Regions from separate parts of the Homo sapiens genome. Here region 2 is linked to region 1. Evidence: fine-mapped expression QTL. A gene starts in region 1. The other region holds a variant in brackets. All regions are shown on one strand. Distances are between the middles of the regions.

Region 1 (11,381 bases):
GAACTGCTTGAACCCAGGAGGGGGAGGTTGCAGAGCACGGAGATCGTGCCACTGCACACCAGCCTGGGTGACAGAGCTAGTCTCTGTCTCAAAAAAAAAAAAAAAAAAAAAAAATATATATATATATATATATATATATGTATGTATATACTGGGGAACCCACCCCCAATTTCAATGTAATGAAATTTCAATGTAAGTTCTTTCTATTTTCCCTAAGTGTTGGCTGGTCTGAGAAATAAAGAGAAAGAGTACAAAGAGAGGAATTTTACAACTGGGCCGCCGGGGGTGACATCACATATTGGTAGGTCTGTGATGTCCACCTGAGCTGCAAAACCAGCAAGTTTTTATTAAGGATTTCAAAAAGGGAGGGGGTGTACGAACAGGGAGTAGTTCACAAAGATCACATACTTCAAACGGCAAAAAGGAGAACAAAGATCACATGCTTCTGAGGAAACAGGGCAAGGACAAAAGCAAAGATCACAAGGCAGAGGGCAAAATTAGAATTACTGATGAGGGTTTATGTTCAGCTGTGCACGTATTCTCTTGATAAACATCTTAAACAACAGAAAACAGGGTTCGAGAGCAGAGAACTGGTCTGACCTCAAATTTACCAGGGCAGGATTTTTTCCCCACCCTAATAAGCCTGAGGGTACTGCAGGGGACCAGGGCATATTTGAGTCCTTATTTCAACCACATAAGACAGACACTCCCAGAGCAGCCGTTTATAGACCTCCCCCCAGGAATGCAATTCTTTTCCCAGAGTATTGATTATCAATATTCCTTGCTAGGAAAAAAATTTAGTAATATCTCTCCTACTTGCAAGTCCATTTATAGGCTCTCTGCAAGAAGAAAAATATGGCTTTTTTTGCCCCACCCCGCAGGCAGTCAGACCTTATGGTTGTCTTCCCTTGTTCCCTAAAATCGTTGTTATTCCGTTCTTTTTCAAGGTGCACTGATTTCATATTGTTCAAACACACGTTTTACAATCAATTTGTACAACAGTGGTCCTGAGGTGACGTACATCCTCAGCTTATGAAGATAACAGGATTAAGAGATTAAAGTAAGACAGGCATAAGAAATTATAAGAGTATTATTAGGGAAGTGATAAATGTCCATGAAATCTTCACAATTTATCTTCCTCTGCAGTGGCTCCAACCAGTCTCTCCGTTCAGGGTCCCTGACTTCCCGCAACATATATATATATATATATTCATATATATACACATTCATATATACATATACACATATATACATTCATATATACATATTCATATATATACATTCATATATACATATTCATATATACATTCATATATACATTCATATATATACATTCATATATACATTCATATATATACATTCATATATACATTCATATATACATTCATATACATTCATATATACATTCATATATACATTCATATATACATATTCATATATATATTCATATATATTCATATATATTCATATATATATTCATATATATATTCATGTATATATTCATATATATACACATTCATATATATACATTCATATATATAATATATATATACACATATTGATATATATATACACATATTGATATATATATACACATATTGATATATATATATATACACATATATATATATACACATATTGTGTATATATATATATACACACACACACATATCCGGCTAGTGGTGTTTTTGTTGTTTTTTTCCTGAAGTTCTAAAATGGAGAGTAAAGGAAACTCTTAAGTGCAGCCTCATCTACTGGTCTAACCCAGACGACTTTTTTTTTTTTTTTTTTTTTTTTTTTGCAAAAAACCAACACAGGTGGTTGCTCCATATGCCTTTTTCTCCTCCCTAGGCAGGCTAGTACTCACTGCTAGTCTAGTCCTAATATTGTTTTGAACCCTAGGAGGCTTAGTCTTCAGAATCATTTTTACTCTGCCCTAAAGTGGAAGACACCCCATTCATTCTACAAATATAATACAGCAGGCATTGTTCCAGCAGCTAAGGCTTGAATAATGAACAAACTAGACAAAAGTCCTTGCCCTTATTAATATTACATTATAATGGAAGGAGGCAGATAGTAAACACAACACACAAGTATGATAAATGTTATGTTAGTTAATGATAGGTGCCATGGACAAAATCAAGCAGAAAGGGGGATAAGGAGTATGGGAGTCCCTCTTGGGAAGGGTGTCAGGGAAGGCCTCCCTGAGGAGGTGACATCAGGCAAAGACAAGAAAGGAGTGAGGGAATGAGCTATAAGGTATATGAGGGAAGAGCATTCCAGGTAGTGGAAAAAGCAAAGGCTTGGAGCTGAAAGTGTGCTTGGGGCATCCCAGGAACAGTAAGGAAGGCAACTGGTGAGAGCCCACAGAGTGAGAGGTAGAGGAGGAGGTGAAGGCAGATAGATCAGGGGGGGTTTGGCAGTAGGCAAGATTGTCTAAGTCCTCATAGTGAAATGGGAAAGTCATGGAGGAGTTCTAGAGGGCCACTGAGAATGCTCTATTAGCACAGACTGCGGGAAGACAAGAACGGAAGAAGGGAGGACCAGTTAGGGAACTTCCTTAAACCAGGTGGGAAATAAGATGGGTTAGACTAGGCTAGTAGCTAAAGAGGTGTGACAGTATTTGGAATGTGAGTATATTCTGAAGGTGGAGCCAATAGGATTTTCCGTCCAATTGTATCTTGGGTGTGAGAAAGGAGGCAAGGACTCCAAGGTTCTTGACATAAGTGGAAGAATGGAGTTGTCCTTTCCTGAGATGGGGGAGGGCTGCAGATGGAGCATGTTTTAGGGCAAAAAGGGGGAGCTGTTATTCCCTTTGTGGTTACCATGGCTTCCCAAGGTCGCTGGGGCTCTCAGAAGGCCATGATTCCAAATTAGATCAGTGGTCTGGACTAGGCCATGACTGAAATACCTTCTTGGGATGACAGCTCCAAGGAATATGTGCCCCAAGGGCTTTGTCCTCCTCCTGAGCTATCCTGTTCCAAGCCAGACTTGCACTGAGATATTGCACCAAATGGTTTTAAGTCTGTTTTTTTGTGTATATAATCAATAGGCAAACACAAACACACACACACGCACACACACACACACACACACCCCTAAAACCTTGAAAACAACTTAAAAACCAGGGTTTCCTATTAGAGAACTCACTGTCCTCCAAATATCAAAATTCAATTCAACTCTACATTTGCGGGGCTGTGACGTGAGCAGGAAGACACTGGTTCCTAGATAATGCCAGGCTAAGGCTGGTATAGAAACCACATCAGGGCCAATCTGAAACGTGGCTGATTGAAGAATTTACGTAATCAGGAACTCATTGGATGAATGATCCAAAAGGAAGGGCTGCATTTAAAACAGTAGTCACTATAGCACCTGCCGCAGCCATACGTAAAATGGAATATTGCAATAAAAATACGGAAAGGTGACGGAAAGCAAAAAAGCCATATTAGTGGGAGGAAAAAACAGAAACTGATTTGTAAGATTACTTCAAAAGGCTAAGAAGAGACTGACAAGAAATTTTAAAAATCGTGTCCTTAAACGGGAGCAAGAATCTATACAAGGCAACAAGGCGAGAGCGCAGAGCTGTTTATTTATTTATTTATTTATTTTTCTACCCAGCTCACAGGGCCAGCGGGTAGATTAGAAAGAAAACAACCAATTGCTGCCAGGCGCGGTGGCTCACACGTGTAATCCCAGCACTTTGGGAGGCCGAGGCGGGCGGATCACGAGGTCAGGAGATCGAGACCATCCTGACTAACATGGTAAAACTCCGTCTACTAAAAAATAGAAAAAATTAGCCGGGCGTGGTGGCGGGCGCCTGTAGTTCCAGCTACTCAGGAGGCTGCGGCAGGAGAATGGCGTGAATCCAGGAGGCGGAGCTTGCAGTGAGCCGAGATCGCGCCACTGCACTCTAGCCTAGGCGACAGAGCAAGACTCCGTCTCAAAAAAAAAAAAAAAAAAAAAAAAAGAAACCAATTGCTAAAGTAGAGTAGCTAAGGAATCAGAACTTGTTTCAAAGTAAGCGAAGTAGTGGCCAGACTAGGTGACTCAAGGCATGACTCAAACCCGACTCTGGAGGCTGTCTGTCAGCTCCCGGAGGCGGGGGGCGCGGTGTCTAACACGTTTTAGGAAAGTACCAGGCTTGTGGAGGGCGACAGGAAACCTCCCCGGGAGATCGGCCTGGGGCTCCTCCTGCCCTAGAGCCTGACCTCTCACTCTCCGTACCGGCAGCGACTTCCAACCTCCTGGCTTCCCCTTCCTCCGTTCGAGGCTCCCCACCCCTCGTCTTCCATCCAGCGTCACAGGGCGTGTGCGTGTTGTGTGCGAGACGCGGGTCTCCTCCCCCGCCGCCCTCCGCCCCGTGCTCCCAGCCACGCGCCTTCCCGCCCCGCCTCCGCGGCAAGCCGCTCCCTTCCCACCCCGCCCGCGCCCGCCGCCCGCCGCCCGCCTCCCGGGCACGCGCTGCACGAACGGCGCCCGGAGCTGGTCTAGGCAAACACCTGTCCTGCCTTGGCTCCGCGAGATTTGGGGCGAAAGCTTAGGCAACAGGGGCACGTTCTCGCGAGGTTTAGGAAATTTCCCACGGCCGTGTTGTGTCTGAGCCGAGTAGTGGAAGGCGGTGGGAAGGAGGTGTAGCGTGAGACTGGACTGCCCGCATTGGGTACATGCGCAGTGCCGCTCGCGCGGGCCGCGCCAATCCTGCAGCGCCTTCAACAGGTTTCGGGCGGCGAATTCCAGTTCTCCGGGTTTTGGGGCTCCCTGCGGGAGGCAGTGCTGGATCTGGGAATCTCTAGGAAAGGAAAGAGCAAAGGAGGGGAAAGATGGGGGGCTGCAGGTAGGAGGAGGGGGCGGGATTCGGGCCCTTCACCCTGCTGTTCCATGCCCGGTGGGGCCAGGTTTGCCCGGGGGCTTCCGGGATCAGGCCGCCTGAAGCGCGATTCGGGCAGCCGGCAGCGTCCTCGGCTGTGCCAGGCCCTCGGGTGGCCCGGTTCCCTGTGCAGTAGTGGTCTCAACACACACCTGGGCTCACACACGGTGGTGGCTGCGATGGGGTCTTAGAGAGGCCATGCAGCACGCGAGCGGCAAGAGCTTTGATCGGGTCCTCTGGGCAGACTCGGAGGTGGGAGAATGTGGCTCTCAATTCCAAGGCAGTTTTCCCTTCTGGAGAGAACTACTCCGCGCTCTGGCGTGTGTCTGCGAGGTGGCCATTAGGGGTGTCTTTGCTAGAGGCCTTGGCTTGACCTCATTTCACACCCAAGGAGAACGCTAAGGCGAGAGAGCTCAACTGCAAAAGTTTTCCGCTTGAGGAGCTCTGGAAGGGCCTCCTCATTAGCATGGGGGGGTGTAATGAATGAAGACAGTCCCCGACGTGTCACTTGCCCGAACCCCAGACATCTCTGGCGCTCCTGCACCAAACGCCGAGATTAGCATAAAGGAGGCGCCCAGGGAACGTTTGAATGAATGAAAATAGCTGGGAACCCAGAGTGAGCGGGAAGCCGCTTGGAAAACACCCATTGAGGAGGTGTTTCATCTAGGCCTGTGAAACGCAGCCCATTTTCCCAGGACCCCTCCTCCCTTCTCCTCGGCCCCGCCTCCTGACCCCTCCATTCCTCGTCCCCGTAGTAATCCCCTCCGGTTTTCCTCAGTCTCCACGTACGTCCCTCAAAGCGCGTCCTAAAACCCGGATAACCGGAGCGCTCCCCATGGACCACACGGAGGGCTCGCCCGCGGAGGAGCCGCCTGCGCATGCTCCATCGCCTGGGTAGGTTTCCAGGGAAGGCAGCGAGCAGGATCCCCTACTCTGCGGGCGGCGCGAGGCGTCTGGCTCTTCGCGGCGGCGGCGAGGGGAAAGGGAGCGCGGGGGCTGGGTGGAATCGAGGAGTGAGGAAAAAGGGAAGGGGCGGGGGAGAGGGACCAGGGAAGGCGTCGGGGGGAATCTCGCGAGGGTTGGAGTTTTGGCGAGAGTTTGTGGAAGATGGCGCCTGTTGTGACAGGGTAAGTCTGAGGGAATCGGAGCGCCGGGAACCGGGAAAGTTGCGGGCGTCTGGCAGCTCACGGCGGGCAGCGGGTTCGGGGGCCGCGGCGCGCTTGGCGTTCGGGGGCCCGCGGGGGCGGCGTCGCGTGCGCCGAGCGCGGCGGCGGCGGCGTGTGGCCGTGCGCTGCCGCTCTGCGCTGCCGTGGCTCAGGCTCCAGCGCGTGAGGGCGGGCGGCGGCGGCGGCGGCGAGGCCGGCGGGTGCGGGCGTGAGTGCGGCAGGGCGCGCGGGGCCCTCGGGCGCCGTGCCTCCCGCGCGCCTCCAGCGGGCTCTGCCTGGGGGCCCCGTGCATCTTTGTTCCTCGCGGCCGTTGTCGCCGCTTCGCCCCGCTAGTGCCCCCGGCCCCGGGCGCTTTGTCTTTCACCGCTACCCGCTGCGACTCTCTACCCCCGGCCCTTTGTTTCGCCGCCTTGGGCGCTTTGTCCGACCCGTGGCGTCCCGCATCCCCTCTCCATCTCCTCCCCTCCGCTGTCCTTCCTCCCGTGCCCCTTTGTTGTGCCACACTCTTGTCGTTAGCCCAGTGACCTGCCACAGCCCGGGCACCAGATTTCTGCCTTAATTGTTCTTCCATTGTCTTTCTCCTGTGGGTCCCCTCTCACCTTTCTGTATGGTCCTGGATCACCCCCCGAGGCTTTGTCTCCCCCATCCACGGGCTTATTCTCTCGGCACCCCCTTCCTCTCCCGTCATCGGTTGATTTATCCACAACCCACGGTGTACGTCTGCTGAACTGTCTCAGCCCCGGGGACTCCATCTGCTGCTTCTAAGTGCACACAAGACTCTACGGTTTGTTGTTTTGTGGGTCTGAAAGATGCATGGGATACTTAGTTTTCTCCTCCGCACCTCTTTTTCTCGGGATTTCTTGTACCCTCCCGCCCCCCTATCGCCACCCCTTTCTCTCGGGATTAAAGCGTCTCCAATTTTCATCGCCGTCTTTTTAGTGCCGTGGGTTGTTTTGCTTGGAAACAGTAGCCTTGGAAAAAGATCTGGTCTCTTGGTGGTTCTTGCGCCCCCCGGCCCCCGCCCCCCTCCTGGTTCCTGACGGCGTAGGCCAAGGGCAGCTGTCTGTCGAAGCTTTGCAATCTAGGCTGCCTGAGGATGATTGGAGGGTATCGTAGGACGGTTAGAAGGAGGCTCAAGATGTATATATGTGTTTTTCTGTTAGTGTTTGAGAATAGTTTCAGATAGCCACAATGGATATTCATTTGGCGTGTGAGTAGGAGTTGAGTGAATTTCCATGTTAAAAACTTGTGAGTGTTGGGGCGGAGAATTTCAGCATTTTCTAGAAATCTGGATTTAGAATTTATCAGTAACTTCTGCCTCATAAGGAAAAGGAGAGGCATTCCGCTTGGGAATTTTATATAAATGTTTTATTTTTTCTTAATCATTAGATAGTTTACAGTTATGTGCTTTTTGCTGCCCTGTAGATGCGTGACAACCCTTCTGTCCCATCATTGGGGTTGAAATGAGGACAGCACCGAAGAGTGCAGTTTCTGGTCGATGAATACTGCTTCTAAGATCTTTGTGGAAGATATTAATCAAATGCAGTTAAAAAGTATACGTATAATATGTATATTATATATATATATACACACACACACGTAATAGCCTGTAGTGAGATTATTTTAAAGACACTTCCTAGTGTTAAAGAACCCTTGAAGTGTTTCGAGTTCTTATTGTTTTGGTAATGCTAAAAGCTTGGGGTTGTGTGAATGGGGGTGGGGGGTGTGGTGTGATGTATTCTAATGACTTGAGTTATTCTGGGTGCTAGGAATAAGAGTTATTATATTTACCAGGATTACTATGCTGAAGGTATTCTTCAAGAGTTTGTTTTTTTTCTACTGGTTGATCTCTACTTTTAGAAGGTATGTTACCCATAAAATCATTTGGAGTGTCATTTCATTTACAAACTGAAGTTCTACAATAGTGAAGTGTTGTTGATAGGGGACATACGAGATCTACTCTAACGAGTATTGGAGCATTGGAAAATACTTTTTTTTCTGGCTGTGATTAGAATTAGTAGTTTGAGTTTTAATTAATGGAAAACCATGTTTTCATGATTGATACATAAGTTTTTTTGTGAAAATCTGCAGTCTGGGTCGCTTGAGTGGGTTTTACCAATAATCTTATGTCTCCCTTACTTGTTCTTGTACATAATCATTGTTTTGAAGGTAAAATCTTGAGCTCACTGGTTCTCTGACTGGGAGCAAAGTGTAAATACTGTGTAGTAATGGAAGGTATTTTGCTCTGACTTGTACCTGTAAGAATGATTACACAGACATGATAAAAGCGCTTTTACCATTTGAGTTGCGTTTTTCTTTCTAAATCGTGTAATACTTTTACTTACATGATTGGTGAAATAAAACTGCTTTTAATTAAATTATAACAGCAGCATATTTCGAAATCTGGATGCGTTGTGGCTGGAGAACTTTCATTCTGAGTATTAACTGTTAAAGCTTTAAATTTTATTATCCATGCATATTGCTGATGGATCTGTGAGTATATTTTCAGAAAACAGGAGACTTGCAATATTTTCAAATCTGTACTAATACACACTTGTAGGCATTAGATTTTAAGCAGTTAGGTTTGTTAAAAAGTTATCTGTTGTCCTATACCAACAGATTTCTATCAATGTTTTTTTTAAGTGGGTAAGATCAAAATTGGTTTGGTTGACAGGCCATTCTTGCCAGATGTAATTCATTAAATAACCTTTGGCACCCTTGATGGGTAAGGCATTAGGAAAAAATTGTTTCGTTTGAAAGTTATTATACATCTCATTCTTCTGTTCATTTTTAGAAATAAGACCCAGGACTTGGCTTTAAAGCATTATTTTGCATTTTGCTTCCTCCTAATACTAAATTTCATGTTATCTCAACTAGGGGCAGTATTTTCTCATGGATTGACTAAAAGTTGTTATTTTTGGCATCTGGCTTTGTGATTATTTCCAAGTTACTCTACTTCCCCTGGGCCAGTTTCCTAACTATGTAGTAAAATGGGAATTATAATAACTTGCCACATCTGCACAGGATTGCTGTGCCTTAAGATTCGCAGAGAGCATCCTTGGATGAAAACTGTGGGGAAGGTCTAGGAATTGTTACTGAAATAAGCTAATGTGAAGTAGGTCATATTTTATAGGAAGTCAAATAGGAGGTTTTTAAGTTCTTGGCAAGACACAGTAGCGATAGTGGGATTTTTTAAAATCCCAAATATGTATTATAATATGGGTAATAAAACAGATACCTTTATTCCTGCCCCCCATAAACTTATAGGGAAAGGGACAAATAAAACAAATTACAGGGTGATGTGTCGTGTGTGAGTGTGTGTGTGTGTGTGTGTGTGTGGTGTAAGAGATTGAAGTTCTGTCAAACTCAAATGTAATAACATTATAAAATTATGGGATGCCTTTCCTCTTTTGTTTTCTGCATGTAGCAATATTCTATTTATTTATTTTATTTTATTTTTTGAGACAGGGTCTCACTCTGTGGCCAGGCTGGAGTTCAGTGGCACAATCTTAGCTCACTGCAACCTCCACCTCCTGGGTTCAAGCGATCCTCGTGCCTTAGCCTCCTGAGTAGCTGGGATTACCAGCGTACACCATCATACCTGGCTAATTTTGTATTTTTAGTAGACATGGGGTTTCGCCATGTTGGCCAGGCTGATCTCAAACTCCTGACCTCAAGGGATCTGCCCACCTTGGCCTCCCAAAGTACTGGGATTACAGGGGTGAGCCACCATGCCTGGCCTGCATGTAGTAATATTTAACAAATGGTAGTACAACATGCTTTCACTGGACTCTAAGCCAAGTCTGTTAATAGCAGTGATTAATTTTAAATATGCCTTATATTTTTTAGTGCTTTGTTATTTGCTCTTAAGAATAAATTCTAATAACCATGACTATAATTTCAGATTTGACTCTTGGCCTTAGAAAAGTGTTTTGCATTTGAGGAGCACTCTGTAGATACGTATTGACTGAATGAAACCTGTTGCTTCTCTGTTCTTGGTAGATGATACCATATTCCGTTTGGTTCCCAAAGCCACGATTCCTAATTCCTCTCTCACCAGCCTTTACATTTAATTACTGAGAACTGATCATTTTTCCTTCTAAAAAATCTCTTGAATTTGTTTCCCTTATCCTCACTGCCGAAGTTCATGCTGTCATTTCTCACCTGGTTTACTATGACGTACTGACAGCCTCTTTCTGCTTCTAGAGTCACCACCTTTATCCAGCTTCTACATGTAGCAGAGCAGTCTTTCTAAAGAGCAAATCTGATCACTGCTTAATCTAAAAACCTTTCAATGGCTCCCCCTAGCAGCGTTCATTAAGAGAGGCAACAGAGTGGAGGGTTATGAGCTCACATTTAGTGTTTAATCTGAACTGGGTTCCAATTCTGTCTCTGGCACTTAAAACCCCTGCCAGTTAAAACCCCTGTAACATTGACAAGTTAATCTCTTTATCAATTGCAAGATAATTATTCCTAACTCAGAAAGTTGTTGTGAAGATTAAATGAGATAATGTATGAAAGCATTTAGCAGAATTCCTGGCATGTAGCAAGTGCTCAAAAGATGTTAGCTACTGTGGCGCATAGGATCCTCCATAACTATTTCATCTGTCTCTTCTCCAGCTGAGTTGTTTGCCATTTTCTCTCCATAATCAGTGCTTCAGTCATATTAAAGTATTTTGACATCTCTGCATGAGCCCAGCAGTTTAATGCGTTCTTGTGTATGAAAAGTAATGATCCTTAGTAGGTTATTTCTCAAGACTAAGGGAATATTCTAACCAGATCTACCAGACTACAGTTGGTGCCTGGCTGTATAAATACTGTATATTTAATACAGTATTAAATGCTGTATATAATTCTCTTGGAAGCATGATACTAAGTTGTAATTATCACACCCAAATATTGTCACTTGGTGGCAGGTATCATTTATATTCTTATACTTAGAAGATTGTCTATCACATGATAGAGACTCAGCAAAAAGAATTTTTGAACATAGGACTCAGTGCTTTGAAATCTTGGTGCAACATGGTTCATGTGGCACAATTTTAAAATTGTGTGTGTGCTTGTGTGTATACAGTATATGTGTGTCTAATTCATATATATGTATAATTTATATATAGGTATTTGACTTTGGTTCTGTAAGGAGTAATTGCTGAAGTACCCAGAGGAATTGATATTTTCAGCCACAAGCAATCTCATAGCCCCTGAGAACATTATAGTAAGGCTCTTAGGCAAAAGTTTTTTTTTTTGATTATTAGAAAATACTACATTATATTTGTATAAAACTGACAAGTTTAAATTTCACTTTTGTTTTTTATATGATTGGCTGTCAGTGTTTATCAAAAGATTCC
Region 2 (11,381 bases), 240 kb before region 1:
AATAGCATAACCTAAATCTACTCATGAGGAAACATCACGCAAATGTCACTTGAAAAACATTCTACAAAATAGCTGGTCCGTATTCTTCAAAAATGTCAATATCATGAAAGACAAAGATTGAGGAAGTGTTGCAGATTAAAGGAGACTGCAGACACGTGACAACTGAATGCAATGCATGATGTGGGATTATCTTTTGCTTTAAAGCAAAATGCTGTTCTTTAAAGGACAGTATTGGGACAATTGGTGAAATCTGAATAAGGCCTGTTTACTAGATAAAGGTATTGTATCAATGTTAATTTCCTGAATTTTGTCATTGTACATTCAGAGAATGTTCTTATTTTTAGGAAATACACACTGAAATATGTAAAGGGACATTGTGTCTCAAACAGTTCAGAAAAAATATAATACTAGTGAGGATGCAGATGTGGAGATAGATCGAGATACAGGATAAAGCAAAGTGATAAAATGTTAACATTGGGGGAATCTGGGTGAAAAGTATGTAGGCCTATGAGAATTATTTTTATTATTCATGTAACTTTTCTGTGAGTCTAAAATTGTATCAAAGTTTAAAGTTAGGCTGGGTGTGGTGGCTTATGCCTATAATCCCAGCACTTTGGGAGGCTGAGGCAGGCAGATCATTTGAGGTCAGGAGTTCGAGACCAGCCTGGTCACCATGGTGAAACCCCATCTACTAAAAATACAAAAATTAGCCAGGCATGGTGGCATGTGTCTGTAATCTCAGCTACTTGGGAGGCTGAGGCACGAGAATCGCTTGAACTTGGGAGACAGAGGTTGCAGTGAGCCGAGATCGTGCCACTGCACTGCAGCCTGTCTCTAATAATAATAATAATAATAATAATAGTAAGTTAAAGGAAGAGAAGAGAGCCATTAGGCTCTGGTCCCTTCTTTGCTCTGTATAAATGTGTAATTTTGGCTAAGTCTCTGCACCCCTGGGTCTCCTCCTGCCCTTCCAGTTGGAGGCCTCGTGGCTTGCCTTTCTTGTTCTGCCTCCTCCCAGCTAATTTCCAGATTGACACCTTGTCTCCTCTTCCTGAGTCAATGTTTCTTTCGCACTGCGCCCTGATAGCTGATCTCTTTGGCTTAATGCCCCTTGAGATCTGGGCCACCATGGAGGTTTTTGTCCAGCATCCAGGACATTTTTTGCCGACTTGGGCTTGTACTCCAAACACATCAAGGTAATTCACATTTATTGAAGTCCTACTCTGTGCCAGCACTGCTCTTGATCTTTTCAATAACCTAAAAGGTAACTTCTCCAATGTGTGTGGTCTACTCTCACTATTATCTCCACACAAATTTCAGTGGCTCCAAAGCCCTACTTCCTTGATCAGAGAAAGTTCAATATTTAGTGGATCATACCTTCATATGAGAAAACTCAGGACCACCTAAACACGGATCCTACTTGGTTGTCCACTTATAGCTATGGATCACAGAGCTAGGATTTTTGGCTTCAAGTCCTCAATGTTCTATTGAAGGGGTCACTCAGGGTTCCAGCTGTCTCCATTTCTTGGGTACCATCAGAGCTGAACCTCAAAGCTAGATATCTTGTCACCTGTGAAATAAAGAGGAAAATGCAGGCCTGGTGTGGTGGCTCATGCCTATAATCCCAGCACTTTGGGAGGCCAAAGAGGGAAGATCGCATGAGGTCAGGAGTTCGAGAACAGCCTGGCCAACATGGTGAAACCCCGTCTCTACTAAATATACAAAAATTAGCCAGGTGTGGTGGCAGACGCCTGTAATCCCAGCTACTTGGGAGGCTGAGGCAGGAAAACCAATTGGACCCTGGTGGCTGAGGCTTCAGTGAGCCAAGATGATGCCATTGAGCTCCAGCCTGGGTGACAGAGTGAGACCCTGTCTCAAAAAAAAAAAAAAAAGAGGAAAGTGCTCTTTTCATGTTACAATCAGTTGCAGTCGATGTGAGGGGGTCCCACAACCAGTTCCAGAATTCTAGTGCAATGGCATTTATGGCAAACCTGTTTAAATTCTGGGTAAGGCTGAGATCCAGTACCAGCCACATTATAGTACCAGGGCCATTCTGCCTCCTGAACACTCAGGCCTGGCTTTGGAGCCCACCTCCCCACACAGGACCATTTCCTCAGTGTGAGTTCTTTCCCAACCCTTGTTGACTCTGTCTGCAAACTAAATTTTTAATATATCTGAGACAGAGATTGTGGACTTAAGTCAATATGTAAAGGGTATTGCCTATTGCCATGGGCCACCAGGAAACCCTGGGCCAGATCCTGCCTCATCAAGAGACCCTGTTGACACTGGAGGCTCAGAGAAGTTACCCATTTGAGGCTGGGGGTCCCGCAAGTCATAAGTGGTGGGGTCAAGATTTGAACTCATATCTCTGGGGCTCTTTCCAGTCCACTGTCTTGTTTTCTCCTCAAAGTGCAGCAAAGACAACAATTAGGTAAATGGAGGCCTTCCTACTTGAGGCTTTGTTAGCAAATTGAGGTTTTTCTGGCCTGGCCTGGGATTCCGGAAGTACAGGGGACAATTGTTTATGCTGCTGTTGGTGATTTCACATTTAGATGATGCAGACTGCTTGTTTTTCTTTCTTCATAGTACCTTTTCCCTCCCAAGCACTTAATCACCCAAAAGACGGAAACATCAAGGGTAGCCCATTTTTATACAATTCTGGAAAATGCTTGGGGCAGGTGGGAGGAAAGGGTGAAACGACTGGCAATGTGGTTTTATAGAAAGAGCGTGGGCATCAGAATCAGACAGTTCTGGGTTCAAATCTGGGTTTGTCGCTTCCTATTTGAGTAAACATTTAGAAGTTAAAGGTCTTCATCTGTAAAACAGAGACAATACCGTCTACCTCTCAGCGTTACATGAGAAACCTTATTTAAAATCATCAGTCTTGAAGAGGGCTCAATGACACTTAGTGTCCCTCACTTTGGCTGATCCTTTTTGGATTATATGAGAATTTTAGCTATCTATATTTTGCTATTCATTCCTCTTACAGACAACCCTCAAGTCAACTCAGAAGCAGGTCTTGTTTCCATGGAGATGTATTTAAGGTAAACAAATGTGAAAAGGGGAAGCACAGACGCCCATCCCCTACACCCACTCACGGCCAATGCACCATCTCAGCAGAAATGTTTCCAAAGAAATGTTTCACAAAGCTTTCGGGGAAGGCCAAGGGCTCTTTCACAGTCTTGACATGCTTTTTCATTGTACGGCTCTTGAAATGAACAATAATTCGAAACAGATAATAATGAACTTCACACAGCAATGGATCAAAAGTGGAATTACTGAGCTCAGCATTGTCTAGTATAATTAGGCTGACATGCTGCTGAATCCAAATGGATGGCTTTCCGACCCCCACTTTTGCATGTGCACATTTATTTGCAGAAGAACTTTTAATGGGCAGAATATTACAAGATTTCTGGACCCCATGTGGTTTCAGTTCTAATCCAAACAGCTTACTTTCTTCTGAAACTCTGATTTTCCTTCCTCGCTTTCTTCTTTTTTTTTCTTTTGGCATCACTATTTTGGAAATTTCAAAGGAGAATTGGTTCCTTGAATGTGCATGGAAATATAAGCACATAAATCACATGCTGAATTTACTTAACAAGGAGCAATAATCCCACTGTCACTTCCCACTGAACAATGCCTTTTTAGGAAAAAATGCTGCAAATCCTTTAGAAGTCCAAATCCGATGCATCCAATCAACTCACTTTTTTAAATTCCACAAAATAATTTCTCTGTTTTAAATAGCTTATTAAACACAACAGCAATCAGATAATAGATATTTCTTAATTAGACCTAGCTTTAGATCTCTCTTCAATCATGGCAGACAGCAGACTAGCTAGTCACTTTATAGGGCCATAAACATTCATTTCAAAGTCTAATAATAGAGTGGTTTCCTCTATTCTCCCTCTAACACAAGGGCCAATTTTTGTCGAGTGAAAATCAGCCCATGTCTTACACAAGACATCTGTCCTCAAGATGTGACACCTAAAATGATAAAGCAGAAATATATCACCAAAGCCAACAACTTATAAAATTATGGCTAACAAGACTAGACAATCTTGTTGTTGCATCAACCACAAAAAAGAAAGAGAAAGGGCATTTAATATAGCCTTTATTAGTCACTTTATTAGTCACTGGTACCTGTCTTGAATTTTCCAAAGGCTCTAACAGAAGAATTAACTTGGCCCATTTACAGAACCACAGGCAGAAGATTCTGCACTATCAGGGATATCCATAGTGGTAGCAAGAACGATTAGCAGAATGTCTAGATGTCCCTAAGCAGACAGATTAATGCCGCCATCCTCAAGGTAGGCTCTGAGCTGCTAGCTAGAATGATATAAGGAGCTCTGGTTAATACAGAGAGAAGGTCCCAGCCAATAATTACTAGCATTGCTGGCCCCATCCATCCACATTAGATCCAGAGCGGAGAATGAAGTTGAACCTTAGAATCCTTCCCATTGTCATGCAAACAAATCTGTTAGATGAGATCTTAGAAGCATTGAGCAGCCCCCAAACCATAGAACTGCCAACCTTAGAGGTGGAAAATTGTAGAAGAGGAAACTGCAGCTGAAGGTGGTGAAATGACTCGCCTAAGGTCACAGAGAAACCACACCACCCTTCACCACTTGTGACTTGAATGGAAATAGTCTTTTTCTGACCAAAAAAAAAAAAAAGAGTGAGTACACTGTGTGTCAGCAAATGTTATGCCACATGCAGCTAGATCATTGCCCAACAAAGGAAATGTGGATTCACAGAACTAGCTTCCTACTTTGAACACTATTTTTCCTGTAAT[C/T]GGGTAAGGCTGGGGGCAAATTCTGGTCAAACCCTACAAAGATAAAGGGAAGCTCCATGTTTATAGATGCATGAACTGTAGGCCTAGTGAAGACTTCTCAATCATTTATCAATCCAGTATTGATTGGGGCATGCCCAACATGGGGCAGGTGTTTTGGAAAATATAGAAAAAGCGTAAGACATAGCCTTTTCCCTTAAGAAAAATTTAAACAATGTAGATGATTCTTAGAGATCAAGTGCAAAGATTAGATATTGATGATGATCCCAAAAGGCATTCAAAGATGGGAGAAATCGCAGGGTTTTTCACAAGTCAAGGATGGCTTGACCGACCTGAGATCTGTAAGGGACCTTGAAATCTGGATTGTGTAGAAGGATAGATGTAGGGGAGAGAAAACCTGGGGATATCTAAGCAGGAACAAAATTTCTGAGGTTGGAATTAATATGGCCCCAGAAAGTCTGGTCAAGACACCTAAGTGGCCTAGAAGTTGGTTTTAAGGGCACAGTGAAAAACAACACTGAACCCCGAGGGAAAGCCATAACAAGTGACTCACCAAATCATTTGGCCAAAGCAACACCAAACAAAGCTCAAGAGTCAGACCCATTTCCTTGAAGACTCGTCTCTCTGGTATGCTAAGAAAAATTAAATTTGCAATTTTCGGATGTACATATGCCAGAATTATCAAAATGTCGTGGATTCTCCTTCATATCATGACTAATATCCTCACCTCTGTACAAAATAGAAAGTTGGCCTGAGCTGTAAGAGGAAGGATTGCCCCTTTCTACCACCGCTCCCCAAGAGGAAATTGACTAAATAGTTTTGGAAGCCATTTCTAGACCCACAAGACCCTAATTCAAGAAAATAAGGTGTTGCCAAAGGTATTAAATATCCAAGAAACTATCCGAATACCTTTCTATGCTTTTGAACATTCCTTCTCTCTGACCTTAAACATGCGCTTAAATATATCAACTCCTTTCATCTGAAGGTGTGCCCGCACATGGCCTTTCTAATATTACCTCCAATTTGGGGGGGCAGAGGATAAACGGACAAGCTGAGGAATTATAGAGCCACCTAAATGGGAGGCTACTTCAAGGTTAAAACATGGCATGCCCAAACGCTTGCTGTACACAAAGGCTATTTATAATAGTTCTGATTTTAAACTTGGATTTATAATGAAGTTCAAGGCAGAAAGAGCAAAATTCCATACTGAAGAAAAATTACAGCTGGAAAAATCATTTGAAAAAAAAAAAGAAAAAAAAAAAAAACAAGAAAGCCTTCCAAGTGGTTACTCAATTTGGGAATTTAGAGAAGATGGCAGTTTGTGTCCAAGAAGAAACTACTTTTGGGGAAATGGAAGAGTGGAAAGTCTTGCCTTCAGTCTATTTTTGTAGCCCTGCCTCCAGCCATGCACATAACTGAGTCAAGGAAGGGCATTCCTCCCCACAGCTTCCAAAAAGGCGCATGTGAACAGAGGCACCTGGTCACACTATGGTGAGCCGAGTGCAAAAGCTTCAGGCAGCGAAGGGCAGTGGGAGGGGAGATATTAACTTGCCTCTGGCCTTTGGTGCCCAGCAAACCTGTGCCCTGCCTGCCTGTCCAGCCTGCCTGTGCCTCTCCAATCTGTGTTCCAGCATCTAGCTCCAGGTCACTCAGGAGTTGCGTGTGTTAGAGGGGGTGGGACAAGGTGATGTGATGGATAGAAACTCTCTTCCTCTTCCTCTCTTACTTTGTCTTAAGTGGGAAGGAGTTTTGGGCTTGCGGGGAATCGTTGCTCAGCATGCTTGCTTGTGCTCTGTAGGTTAAAGCGTTTAACTATAGGGTGGCAGGTGGTATCTATCTATGTACCCACTTCTTACCTCTCTCTAGCAGATGAGCCTCCAGAGCACAGCACTCATTTACTCTGAGCAAAGACTCAACTCCAGAATCCTTCCCAATCCAGCAGTCCAGGCTGTCATTACTAATCAGAATGGGCAAGTGGTTTGCAACTCATTTGCCAAGGTAGAGAAAAGAAGAGCAGGAAGAAAGAGGAAAGTAACATTTTCTGAGCACCAATCATATGCCAAATAGTGGCATGTCAAGCGGGTGGGGAAGTCAGCCTCGATGGGGAGGGGACAGGTTATCACTGGCATTGCATAGTGAATATAAAATGACTTCGATCATCTTTACACTGGGCTCAATACTCCATGGACAATGCACCCTCATTGCCACTCCCACTGTCCCCTCCGCCTTCCTGACTGCACCACCAGGACCAAGAACAGCTGGTGGCCCTTTCACAGGGCTTGCCTTTCCCAACAGCCTGGTGGTGTGGCAAGGACTTGGAACCATCCCTCTTATACTGTTAAATCCCCTGTTGAGGTCAGACTGTGCCTCAGTTTCCTCACTTGTAAAGTGAAGATAACAAAGCTGTACCTTTCCTAGAGGGCTGTAGTGAGGGCTAGTGCTTCTGCAATTGTGAGAGGGCACAAAACCTGGCATATAGGAAGAACTGTTAAATGTCAATTTTCCCTTAAGTTACCAGCTGAACTGGGCTGCCCCTACCTGAGTTTTAAGATCATTACAATAATAATAATAACCAATTGTAATATACCACATAGGATTGTCTGGTTTAGAAAAACAGACAGGATACTCAGTCAAATTTGAATTTCAGATAAGAAATGAGTAATTTTTAGTATGAGTATTTCCCAAACATTGCATGGAACATAGTTATACTAAAAATTTATTTATTTTTAATCTGAAATTCAAGTTTAACTGAGTGTCCTATATTTTATCTGGCAACACTAACATCAAATCTTAAGGTGTGTGGAATAAACAAAGGCATAACTCTTTGGAAATAAAAATGTCACACTGAAAGAAATGTTTCTCCAAATTGATTTTCAAACTTTTTCCAGCCACATTCCACAGCAAGAAATACATTTTGCATCACAGTGCAATACACACAAATGTGTATTAACTGAAATCAACATTTTACAAAACCTTTTTTGTGTACAGTATATTCTGATATTTTGTCTCCTTCATTCTACTTTATCTTATTTCTTTTTAAAAAAATTCTTTGTCCAGTATCACTTAACTGATTTCATGACCCCCTTAATTGAGGGGTCAACAAATTATGGCCCAGGGCTAAATCTAACTAACCACCTCTTTTTGTAAGGCTTGTAAGCTAAAAATGTTTTTTACATTTTTGGCCAGGCGCGGTGGCTCACACTTGCAATCCCAGCACTTTGGGAGGCGAAGGTGGGCAGATTGCATTAAAACCAGGAGTTTGAGACCAGCCTGGCCAACATGGCGAAACCTTGTCTCTAGTAAAAAGAGAAAAATTAGCTGGGCATGGTGGCACATGCCTATAGTCCCAGCTACTCTGCAGGCTGAGGCAGGAGTTGCTTGAACCTAGGAGGCAGAGGTTGCAGTGAATTGAGATCACACCACTGCACTCCATACAACTTTTTGAGACTCTGTCTCAAAAAATAAAATAAAAAAGATAAGATAAAAGTTAAAAAGATAAGATTAAAAATTTTCTACATTTTTAAGTGGTTGGAAGAAATCAAAAGGAGAATGATATCTCATGACTGGTGAAAATTATATGAAATTCACATTTTAGTATTCATAAATAGTTTAATTACAGGACAGACACGCTCACTTGTTTACCCATTGTCTTTGATCATTTTCGCACTACAGTGGCAGAGTTGAGCAGTTGCGAGTTGAGAGTTGCGTGTTGAGTACAGCCCACAAAACCTAAAATATTTACAATTTGTGCCCTTACTGAAAAAAAATTGCCTACCCCTACCCTAAAGGGTTGCAATTTGCAGTTTGAAACGCTCTGTTCTAAATGGTTTTGCCCCAAAAGGATTCATTTCTATTCATGTGAGTGAGCAGTTTTTTTAACAATGTCAAGTTAACCTTACTCTTCTTATTTCCTCATAGGATAAAGACAGAGGAACAAATACCAGACCAGCAAACTTACCTGAATCCAGCTGCCCTCAGAGTATGGCTGAGGCTTGGTCAAAGCCCAGAACTTAGCAAGGGTTAGAGGACATCATGGGACCATATTCCCAGTCACTCCAGGTATCCACTACTCACAGGGAAGGGAGGGATTATGAAGAACACAGAACAAATGTCAAGTTCTTGACTTTGAATCATTTAGGCTCTTGACTCTTATTACAGAGATTGGGTGGGTCCTCCATAGCCAAGGTTTGTGATAGAAAAGTGTGATCAAATCTAAAGGCTAAGCCCCACGTAAGCACGACATAAAAGTTTATACTACAAACAAGAGAATGGAAAGAGAGGAAAGGATGGTTGCTCTAGCTAGGGAAAGAGGAGAAGGGAAGAAGAAGATGCTGACATAGCCCTGAGGGGTCCTGCACTTTGCCTGCTCCCTCGTCTTGTGATTTTCTGAAGTGGGGTAGCGGGTGATAAATCATCAAGATAGGTTTAGTAATGCCAAGACCTGAGAATGTGTGCCCTGATCTACGGGAGACGCCTGGAGTTAGGGGAGAACAGCACAGATACATACCGAGATCATCAAGGGCCCTGAGGGCCAAATGCAGCATGCCACTTCCTTTTGTAAGTGAAGTTTTATTGGAACACAGCCATGCCCGTTCATTTATCTATTGCCTGTGGCAGCGTTTGTGCTACAGTAACAGAGTGGAGTACTCATCTAAAATACGTGCTGTCTGGCCCTTTACAGGGCATAGTTTGCCATCCCCTGCGTTGTATGCTGGCCATAGTGGAGAAGAGAGCGCAACAGAGCAAAGCAGTGGGGAGGCCCCAGGAAAGCCCCCGATCTGTCACAGCCAGGCCCATGTAAGAGAGCATCCTAAAGTTTCCCTTGCTCCTGCCTCCAAAATGGGCACAAAATGGCCAAAAGAGGGCCGCAGACCTGAGCAGAGCTTGAGGTTGGGACAAGAAGATACAGTGGAGATGGAGGGCTTTCTAACAATGGAGGACTTGGCAGCCTCCAAGTATGGCCCCTGGGTGCCACTACGCATAGGTGCTGATGGCCAAAGACCAGGTCTGCTTCAGGCTAAGGATGCCTGTGGACCATACCACCCCATCCCTCTCTCAGTCCCCCAGAACCCCGTTTTCTACACCTACACCATCCTATATTTCCAGGATCTTACCAGCAACCCCAAGAAGAAGGGAAGGGCATGAAATTTTGAATTGAGTGACTGAAACCGGCATGACTGCATAAACACTGAAGTGAGTGATTTTTACCAGGAAGACACTATATATTAAGTTTCCTGCCACTAGAAGAATGTAGACTTAAACTAGAAATTAGGTTATAGAAAAATGAAGAGGTTTACATTCTACATAGCCGATAGGAAGAACAGGAAACTGACTTTGTTGCTGCAGGAAATTGGAACTTCATTCACAGCAATTCTGAGACCACAGAAGTTGAAGTCCTTATGGTTCATGACTCAATGACTCCATACCTACTCATTTTTCTACCGACTTCTTTCTAGAATAAGACAGTTTAAAGCAGTCCAAATCTTCCGGAGATTTTTCCCATTCTACCTGCAACTCCATAAAAGGAATCCTGTACAAGTCTAAATTTTCACCAGTAGGTGGTGCTAACACAAACACTACACTGTACTTATCTGAGGATGAATTAGCCAGACACTAATTAAAGCTCTCTGCATTAGCACTTTTCTCTACAGCGCCTTCCCTCTGGTCTAATTGAACTTTGTTATTAAGCAGTCCCTGAGTGGTTTCACCTCAGGGCTAACACTCTCTCTCTGGAGTGGTATAATGGAAAGAATTCCAGCATTAGGAAACATGGGGTATGGATTTTGGCTGTCTTACTAATTAGATGAATTCGCCAAGTCACTTAATCTCTCTGAGTCTTAGGATCTTCATTTTTAAAATAAGTGAGTTGGGTTTGTGGGATGCTTGTTTTCCAGGTTTGAGAAACAATTCCACAACCGCTCTTCTCCCATCAAGCTAATACATTTTGAGGAAAAACTCAAGATTTCAAGAAATAGGCTCTCGGACACAATTCTGTGGGGGAGGTAAGAAGTCTGTGGCACAGACTTTCTGTCAGGCAATTTGGCAATGTATAGCGGCAGTCCTAAAAATGTATGTACCTCTTGACCACGAATTCCATATCTGGGAATTCATCTCAAATAAATAATTACAGGCATGTGCAGATATGGAGCCAAGAGAACACTCTATAATGCAGTGCATGTTGACTTTGTTGAGAGCTCAGTGTATCTTCGCTAACCAGTTTCTGAACTTCAGATAATCCTTAGAACTATATTATAATCCTTGTATAAGGCAACAAAGCAAACTATTGCTTAATCATACAATGAAAGGAAGAAGTAATGAACGTATTTTGTGTGCCACACACCAAGCCAGACACTTTTCTTAAGTTCTTTCTTTAAATATTCTTACAATAACCCTATGGCGAAAAGGTATTATTAATTCTATTTTATAGCTAGGGAGTCCAACACTCAGACCAGTTAACCTTCTTGATCAAAGTCACCCAGTGCTGATTACTGGGAGAAGAATTGCATCTTCTACTTTACAAAGATCAAGTTCTCTGAGGGCTTGGGGAAAGCTTTCCCTGTCATGGAAGTAAGAGGAGGGAAATTCAGTAGGT

Evidence for each region. PIP is the estimated chance that this variant, and not a neighbour inherited with it, causes the effect.
Region 2: its variant is fine-mapped to the expression of RBPJ in whole blood (TOPMed, PIP 0.92).

What each region holds. Positions count from the first base shown.
Region 1 is chr4:26,315,055-26,326,435 of GRCh38, forward strand. RBPJ (recombination signal binding protein for immunoglobulin kappa J region) reads left to right here and starts at 5,960. Exons shown (of 11, transcript NM_015874.6): 1 at 5,960-5,994. The coding sequence starts at 5,975. RefSeq lists enhancers at 3,994-4,043, 5,134-5,183, 6,416-7,337 and silencers at 4,264-4,533, 6,004-6,133, 6,204-6,303.
Region 2 is chr4:26,071,743-26,083,123 of GRCh38, forward strand. It overlaps LINC02357 (long intergenic non-protein coding RNA 2357), which reads left to right. Exons shown (of 3, transcript XR_925506.3): 1 at 1-278; 2 at 8,708-8,848. Among named protein-coding and RNA genes, the nearest start is that of LINC02357, 6.7 kb to the left of the region's middle. RefSeq lists enhancers at 3,190-3,269, 9,458-9,637. The variant C/T (reference allele first, on the strand shown) is at 4,793.